2 separate regions of the Homo sapiens genome follow, and region 1 is linked to region 2. The links come from fine-mapping of genetic effects on gene expression. A gene starts in region 2. The other region holds a variant in brackets. All regions are shown on one strand. Distances are between the middles of the regions. Region 1 overlaps GDA (guanine deaminase). Region 2 holds the start of GDA (guanine deaminase).

The links.
Region 1: its variant is fine-mapped to the expression of GDA in skeletal muscle (GTEx, PIP above 0.99).

The regions. Positions count from the first base shown.
Region 1 is chr9:72,180,266-72,184,665 of GRCh38, forward strand. The region is part of intron 1 of GDA (guanine deaminase); the gene reads left to right. Among named protein-coding and RNA genes, the nearest start is that of GDA, 33 kb to the left of the region's middle. The variant G/C (reference allele first, on the strand shown) is at 2,662.
Region 2 is chr9:72,146,956-72,151,355 of GRCh38, forward strand. GDA (guanine deaminase) reads left to right here and starts at 2,485. Exons shown (of 14, transcript NM_004293.5): 1 at 2,485-2,727. The coding sequence starts at 2,605. RefSeq lists enhancers at 1-475, 2,184-2,685, 2,686-3,185.

The DNA of each region.
Region 1 (4,400 bases), 33 kb after region 2:
AGAATCGCTTGAACCCGGGAGGCAGAGGTTGCAGTGAGACAAGACTACGCCACTGCACTCCAGCCTGGGCAACAGAGCAAGAGTCCCTCTCAAAAAAAATAAAAATAACAAAGGCCCAAAGGAATAGGCTTGTGTAGGGAGTACTTTTGTGTGTGCCTGCATTTTTAAATCAATGTCTGTGTATCTGATACAGTCTATTGAGATCAACTTTATGGTCAATTGATACTGCCTTTCAGTTTTTCAAAAGAGAGAGAGAGTGAGTGCTTTTCCTAAATTAATTCTTAGTTGTCTACTTGCTGAATGTAGTCTCTGAAGATGTCTTTTGTGAGGCAGCTGCTGAAATTATTTGCTTGTTTGATGATTTCAGGATTCAAATGTGTCATTTAACTTTAGAGCTGAGATTTATGGTGAATTTCACTCCGAGCTTGGTGTTAATTTTACACACATCTAAGCAGTTTCCTTCTTCCACAAGTTGGTTAAGCATCAGAGGATTCTGAATTTAGGAAAAAAAAATAAATTAGGCAGTAACAATTTGCATCCCAAAGTGATTCACAAGTTTTCAAGTATATTCAAGGGTTGTTTAGCATATTACCGACTACTTATCAAAACACGGGACTGATTATGACCTTGTTTTAGATTGCTGGTGTTGAGGTGCTACAAATGTGAGATCTGTATTATTGTGTTTCCTCATTGCCTTCGCTTCTTCTGTGGTTTTTTCCTTTTGGTCACTTTGGGTGTTCCACAGATTACCAATGTGTGCATTTCACATGAAATAGATTTTGATTTTTTAAAAATAGCATTTATTGTGAGTAGAAAATTTGGTTTCACTCATACATTTTTCTGGTGATCTTTGTGCATTTTACTTATTTTTTTGAAGTGATTCTTCTTTTTAATTAACTCATTGGGTAAAGAAAGTACAGTTCTAATGTCTATGTAAGGTGTAATGAATAAGGATGTGATGAACTGTGGTTATCTTTGAAGCTCTATGTGTTCTCAATATCCGTTCCCTTCCCTTATCACCATTATACTAAATTTTATGCTTATCATGTCCTTACTTTTACTTATACTTTCACAATTTTTTTTGTGTGTGTCACTTGTTGCTTAGGCTGGAGTGCAGTGGCGCGATCTTGGCTCACTGAAACCTCCACCTCCTGGGTTCAAGCAATTCTCTGCCTCAGCCTCCGGAGTAACTGGGATTACAAGCGCCCGCCACCATGCCCAGCTAAGTTTTGTATTTTTAGTAGAGACGGGGTTTCACCATCTTGGCCAGGCTTGTCTTGAACTTCTGACCTCAGGTGATCCACCCGCCTTGGCCTCCCAAAGTGCTGGGATTACAGGCGTGAGCCACCGCGCCTGGCCTCACTATCTTTTTTCACTTTCTTTTTTTTCTTTTAGTCAGAGTCTTGCTCTGTCACCTGGGATGGAGCACAGTGGCGTGATGGTAGCTCACTGCAACCTTGAACTCCCGGGCTCAAGCAATCCTCACATTTCAGCCTCCCAAAGTGTGGGATTACAGGTGTAAGCCACTGCACCCAGCCTATACTTTCACTTTTTATATTTGCGTTTCCAAATAATATACTGTTTAGTTTTTCAGTTAAAATTTTTTATTTTTAATTCATTAAAAAATGATTCAAAAAGTTACAAGAATATACAAAATAATGCTGCTATAGACTTCACCCGGATTCTCAGTGCTAATATTTTACAAAATTTGCTTCATTATTCTCTACTCTCTCTACATATATAGGTAGACACACACATGCACGCACACACACACATTTTTCTGGACTGAGAGTAAGTTATAGACATGCTGTTGGAGTCTAAATACTTTATTTTTTTTCCCTAAAAAATAAGGACACTGCCTTACATAATCATGAATTATTATCTGGGTCAGGAAATTAACATAGGTATAATTCTACCACATGATCTGTAGACCCATTCAAACTTTGCCCACTGGCCCAATAATGCCCTTGGTGGCTATTTCCCCTCCTCTTATTCAGAATCCACTCCAGAACCACAGGCTCCATTTATGTATCACATTCCTTTAGTTGCCTTTCATCTGTAATGGGTCTTTAGTGTTTCTTTGTCTTTCATGCTCTGGATAATTTTCAAGAATATAGAAGAGTTTCTCCTTTTTTCAAACTGTCCCTTAATTTGGGTTTGTCTGATGTTTCCTCATGATTAGATTCAGGTCGTGCATTTTTGGCAGGGACATCGGAGAAATGATGCTGTGCTCTCAGTACATCATATCAGGAGGCACAGGATGTGGAATTGTCCCGTTATTGGTGATGTTAACTTTGGTCACTCGGCTGAGGTGGTGTGGGCCAGCTTTCTGCACTTCTCTTTGTAAAATAAACTTTGTGGGGAGATACTTTGATAATTATATAAATATCCTGTTTCTCAACAAATTTTCACCCACTAGTTTTAGTGTTCATTGATGATTTTTGCATGAATCATTTTTTTATGATGATGGATGCCAAATGCTCATTTTCTAATTGTGTAATTTCTTCCACATATATTAGTTGGTATTCCACTGGAAGAAAGAACTCTCCATTCTCACTCATGTACTCATTCATTTACTTATCATTGTGGACTCATGGATTCCCATATTATTCTTTGGATTTTAATTTGTTAGTATTTTTATTTATTTTGATGCTCAAATTG[G/C]CCCAGATTTACCTAGTGGGAGTTTGTTTAGAGTGGCTTCTTTGTCCTTTTGACTACTTTCTGACTATATTCTAGCACTTCCTTACTTTTGGCACAAAATTATGTTCTAGATTCATCTTGTATTTTCCTTACCAGAGCCCTGGAATGAGCCCTGGAGTCACTTGGTTCTGTTTTGTGGAGAATGGTATTTAGAAACCAAGATCTGAGAACTAGGGGTGCTGATTGCATCTGGGTTTCATTGTCTCTAGGCCTCTCAGCAGATAAAGCTAGTATGTGTGTGCATGTAATGTATATGTATGTATGTAAATATATGTAAATATATATTACTCCTATATGTAATCAATCTCCTGACCCTGGGGACTGTCTCCTCGGCTACAGCCTTGCCCATTCCACCTGCCTCCTTGACACTGCACTTCTCCAACCCCAGTTCCCCTGACCCTATTAGCATTCTCAGCCTTGACTGCTCCCTTAGCCCCAACTACCTCTGCATTCCTGGATCCACCAGGCCCACCTGCTGGGGCTATATGAATGGAAGGAAAAGGAAAGGAAAGGCACAAAGAAATAGTTTATAAAGAAAAAAAGAAAAGGAAAAGGCTGTTTGGTTTTTAAAATATTACATGAAAAAATACATAACGTAGTGTCTAATGGCCGTTAGCCTGTAGGCAACTGGGGTTCAAATTCAGGATTTATTACCTGCCAGATGCGTAATTTTGGGCAAGGTACTTAACATCTCTGTGCCTCAATTTTATCCTCTGCAAAATGGGGCTAGTAATAGTGCCTCATAGGGTTCTTGTGAGGTTTAAACAAGTTAACACATGTAAAGTATGTAGGATGGTGTTTGGCACATAGGAAATATATTTTAATCTCTTTATTATTATCAGACATCCCATCATTTTAGAATATGTTGCTTTATATTTCTAATAAAAATGTGTTAAATACCAATGATTTATTAGTGGTGTCTTCTACAGAGATCAGAAGAGTTATTAAAGTTACCGTTTTTCCTTCCATGAGTATTATTTTCTTTATTCAGATTTGACTGTCTATACCTTATACCACTTTGCAACATAAGCATTACATTAAATTACTATTACAAATCTTGAATCTTTGCACTTATCTTTTAAAAATTTAATTTTTAGAGAAGTTTTAGGTTCACAGCAAAGTTGAGAGAAAGGTTCAGAGCTTTCCCATGTATCCCCTGCCGGGACACATGCACAGCCCCCTCATTATCAATATCCCCCACCAGAATGCTACATTTGCAACAACTGATAAACCTACATTGTCACATCATTATCAACCAAAGTCCACAGTTTATACTAGGGCTCACTCTTGGATTTGTACATTATGTGGTTTTGGACACTTGTATAATGATGTATTGACCATTATAGTATCATAGAGAGTGTTTTCACTGTCCTAAAATTCTTCTGCTCTGCCTATTCATCCTTCCCCCTCCAACCCTTGACAACTACTGATTTTTTATTGTCTCCATAGTTTGCCTTTTCCAGAATGTCATATAGTTGGGATCATATAATATGAAGCTCTTTCAGATTTGTGTCTTTCACTTAGTAATATGCATGTAAGATTCTCTATGTATTTTCGTGGCTTAATAGCTCATTTATTTTTATTACTGAATAATATTCCGTTTTCTGGATGTACCGCAGTTTATTTATCCATTCTTCTACTGAAGGACATCTTGGTTGCTTCCTAAAGGTACATCCTTCATCTATCAAGGAGTGTTTGTT
Region 2 (4,400 bases):
TGTCACCTGGAGGTTCATGGCCAATCCTTCTGCTTAAGACGATTAATTTCTTTAAAAGCATCATAATGATTATTCATCCTATAAACCACATAGTAACAACATTAAAAAAATCAAAACAAAATTCTCTACCTAGCAATTCCATTATCTCAACAGAACAACACACATTGTTTGATGTACCTTTTCAATTCCAGCAAATATGCTTATAGCTTTTCATGGTTTTCATCGTAGCATAGAAGCTGTTTTTTGTTTGTTTGTTTTGTTTTGTTTTTTTGAGACCGAGTCTTGGTCTGTCACCAGGCTGGAATGCAGTGGCGTGATCTCAGCTCACTGCAACCTCCGCCTCCGGGGTTCAAGCAATTTTCCTGCCTCACCCTCCTGAGTAGCTGGGACTACAGGCACGCATCACCACACCCAGCTAATTTTTGTATTTTTAGTAGAGATGGGGTTTCACCATGTTGGCCAGGATAGTCTCAATCTCGACCTCGTGATCCACCCGCCTCGGCCTCCCAAAGTGTTGGGATTACAGGCGTGAGCCATCGTGCCCAGCCAGAAGCCATTTTTGAAAGCTTAACATTGTGGCTATATATTTCTCCTGTTGTTTTTAATAACTGTATAATGTTCTATCAAGTAGATATATTCTAGTTCATAAAACTAGTCTCTATTTTTTTTTTTTGACATTTAGGTTTTCATTAAAACCTAATCATCAAAAAAATTATTAACCGTATCTGTTTTAGGAAAGTAATACATCTGTTGGAAACATCTGATTGAATCCTATCTCAAAAGCCATTTTCTTCACCTTTCTGTCTGAGGTTTTTGTGTATACAAGGGAATGTTTTCAGTGTGCTGGCTGTCGGTACTGCCAGGAGGGAGTGCAGTTGGCAGAATCAGGAGAAAGTGACAAGGAGCAGGGACAAGTGTAATGACCTCAGCTGCAGAGATTCCTAATTCTGGATCCCTGGTAGGGTGATCAACCATCTGTGTGCATGGTTCTGACGGTTTTCCTGAACGGCCTTTCAGTGCTAAAACCAGGAAAGTGCCTGGTAAACCAGGATTTGTTGGTCACCTTAGACATTGGTTATGGGGGAGCTGAAGGAACTGAGAAGGGAACGAATCATTTCTATAAGCCAGCCCTGTGTCTTAAAAGCAGCAATTCAGAGAAAAACTGCTCACACACTGCAATGAAACCCTCACCCTTTATGTAGTTGTCAAAATAGTTATTTGTCTCAGGTTATGGCTCTGCTCACAGAAAAACCATCCATTCATTTATTCAATAAACATGTATGGAACACCGGCATTGTTCTAGGCATAAGACACATTCCCTGCTCCTGTGGTGCTTCTGTTATTGGTGTGTGTATGTGTGTGTGTGTGTGTGTGTGTGTGTGTGTGTGTGTGTGTGTATTGGTGAGAGGGAAACAGGAGTAAACTAAAAAACACAAAATAAAGAAGAATGGACACAATAAATGCAATGGCAGAAACAAGATGGATTAGTGGAGTAGAAACTGCTGGGAGTCCGGTGCCACTTGGTGGTCAGGAAAGGTGACTCCGAAGAGCCTGACATTTGAGACAAATCAGTGGTGAGAAGAGCTGCCAAGTAAAGCGCCACAAGAGGGATTAGGGGCAGAAGGAACAGCACGTTAGAGGGCCCTGAATGGAAGCCAGCTGGGTTTCATGGAGGAACTTAGTGAAGGACCCTGTGGTCATTGTGTAGGGTGGGAACGCTGACCCTAGTTATGACCCAGTCCAAGCTCCATTTTCATAAGTGGGGATGATAAGCACACTGAGGCCCACGTGTCTTGTCCACAGTCTCTTGATTCCCAATTCAGCACCCATGGTACCATTGCTGCCTATTTGACTTGAGAACTTAATTTTCTCCCTTTGTACAACTGGAAGTAAATAAAAGAGATTCATTCATTTTACACGAGAAAAATTGGTATTGGAATTGTTTGCGGACAAACACAAGAACCAAAAACATTAGCCTCAAGGTGAAGAGAGGAACCTTGGCGTCCACAATGACACCCAGTTTAGGGGTCCCCAGAGATGTTCGGTAAGACATGCTTCCAGAACCTTCCAGGTGAGGACCAATACTAATTCTGCAGTCTACATAAACTAAAAATGAAACTGGTCATAAGGTAGGCAGCCCCAGCTGACCTTTCACCTGTGCCTGAACTAATGCAAGTACAGGACCTGAGTGCTACAGGTTGAAGAAGTAAGTGATCCTAGGAGTTGAAGGGTCAGAGGAGCCAGGCTGACACAACTCATAGAAGGTGGAGGAAGCTGATCTTCTGAGCCTCAGCTGTGGTTGATCTTGATAACTCAAAGAGTTAACACAACCAAAACTAACGCAAGGGTGGAGAGAAAGACCACACCCCACGGGAGCGCGGAGCCAACTCGCGGGAGAAAAATCCTATTGGCATTGAGGAGGTAGGGAGCCAGCCCCTGGGCGCGGCCTGCAGGGTACCGGCAACCGCCCGGGTAAGCGGGGGCAGGACAAGGCCGGAGCCTGTGTCCGCCCGGCAGCCGCCCGCAGCTGCAGAGAGTCCCGCTGCGTCTCCGCCGCGTGCGCCCTCCTCGACCAGCAGACCCGCGCTGCGCTCCGCCGCTGACATGTGTGCCGCTCAGATGCCGCCCCTGGCGCACATCTTCCGAGGGACGTTCGTCCACTCCACCTGGACCTGCCCCATGGAGGTGCTGCGGGATCACCTCCTCGGCGTGAGCGACAGCGGCAAAGTAAGCAGGCGCGGGGTCGAGCGCACTCCGACGGGCGGGAGGATAGGTGCAAGGAACCTGGCGCGGTGCTTCGCGTAGCCCGGGGTTCGCTCGGTGCGCAGTGAGCGCCGCGGCTCCGGAGTTGAACTTGAGTCTTTGGCTCTTGGGCAACGCAGAGAGAACCCTGGCGCTAGGTTCGTGGGCTGGCTGGGGAGTTCCCAGAAGTCGGGAGCAGTGGCGTGCTAACGCCACAACTGGCTCGACAGCAGTCCGGGCTGCGGTAGAGCCGGGAGCAAGGATGTCACCCCCCGCTCCCCCGCCCCCCGTTCCAATCCTAAGATACCGGCAATAATCTTCAATCTTGCTTAAATCATCTTTGTTTCCAACACCTAGCACTGTGCCTGGCACAGGAGGCTCTCCATAAATGTGGTTGAATTTATTGTGAAAGAAATAAGAGGAGGGGGTCATTTGATTGATGTTGTTTAGCGTGTCCAGAACATAGAATAAATAGAACTGATTACATTCACCCTATCATTCAACAGAGATAATATACTAACGATGAAGGTTCCACAACTTGTAATACTAGAAGGGATGGTCCGAAAGAAATAATTCATCCATCTCTTTTCCTTCCTCTCTCTCTCTTATACACACACGCGTACACACACACACACACACGCACGCACACACACACACACACCATAGCCATTTGCATCAAAGCAAGCAGTTCCATTTTAAGGTTCAAAATGTCTTCTTTGAATGTATCTTTTACACTTCCTTTTCCAAAATCAGGATTTCTACAAATGACACAGGTAACTTGATGTCTACTATTTACTGTTCCATACACACATATAGTGACTATATCAGCCATGGCCTGGCAAGTTTGATAAGTGAAGCCATTCCATTTTTTAGAACAAAAAAATGATAAAATAAATATGGAGATGGGATTTTTTGAGCTGTTTTCCAACTACTGGTTTGGTTAGCAAAAGTACACATACTTGTGATTTGTCAAGTTGAAGATACTATTCTTGACTAAGATGCTACCGAGTCGGTGACAGTTTTGAATCGTGACTCTTACATTTGGGGGTAACTAAACACTGTTTTCTCATGGTGCTTTAAAAAATACTCTTTCTATGCACGTTCAGGGAGCCTGCTGTTGTGTTTCCAAGGTGATAAAACTCTCAGAGCTCTCCCAGGGAGATTCCGGTAAACCCTGAGACTGATGAACCCATGCTTGGGGACTTGGTCCTCAAGTTTCAGGGAACTCAGGTTTGGGGCAAGTCCCAGGAAGCAAAGGAACGGAGATTGCTAAACTGGTGTAAGATTAGAGGTGTTATTTTAATCACAAGAAGCTGTTCAACTCTTGGGTTTCTTTTTTAAAAATTAATTTCCCATATCCAGAATTGTAATTGGTAGGGTAACAGGCAACTGGTTTTACCAGTGGAGAGGAATAAGAAAAGGAAGTAATAAAAATACCTTTTCTGGTGCTTGTACAGAAGAAGAATAAAAGAGTTTCCCAAACACACAATTAGTAGTTGAGTCAGGGAGTCTATTCCTCACTAAAAATCATACTGAAGTTATAAATTTAGAAAACATGCCCTTCCCCCACAAGACAAAATGACTTAGGAATTGAATACAAAGGTGAGTTAGTCAGTGGCTGGAATGTATGGTACAGAGCTCCTGAACCAGTGGATTGC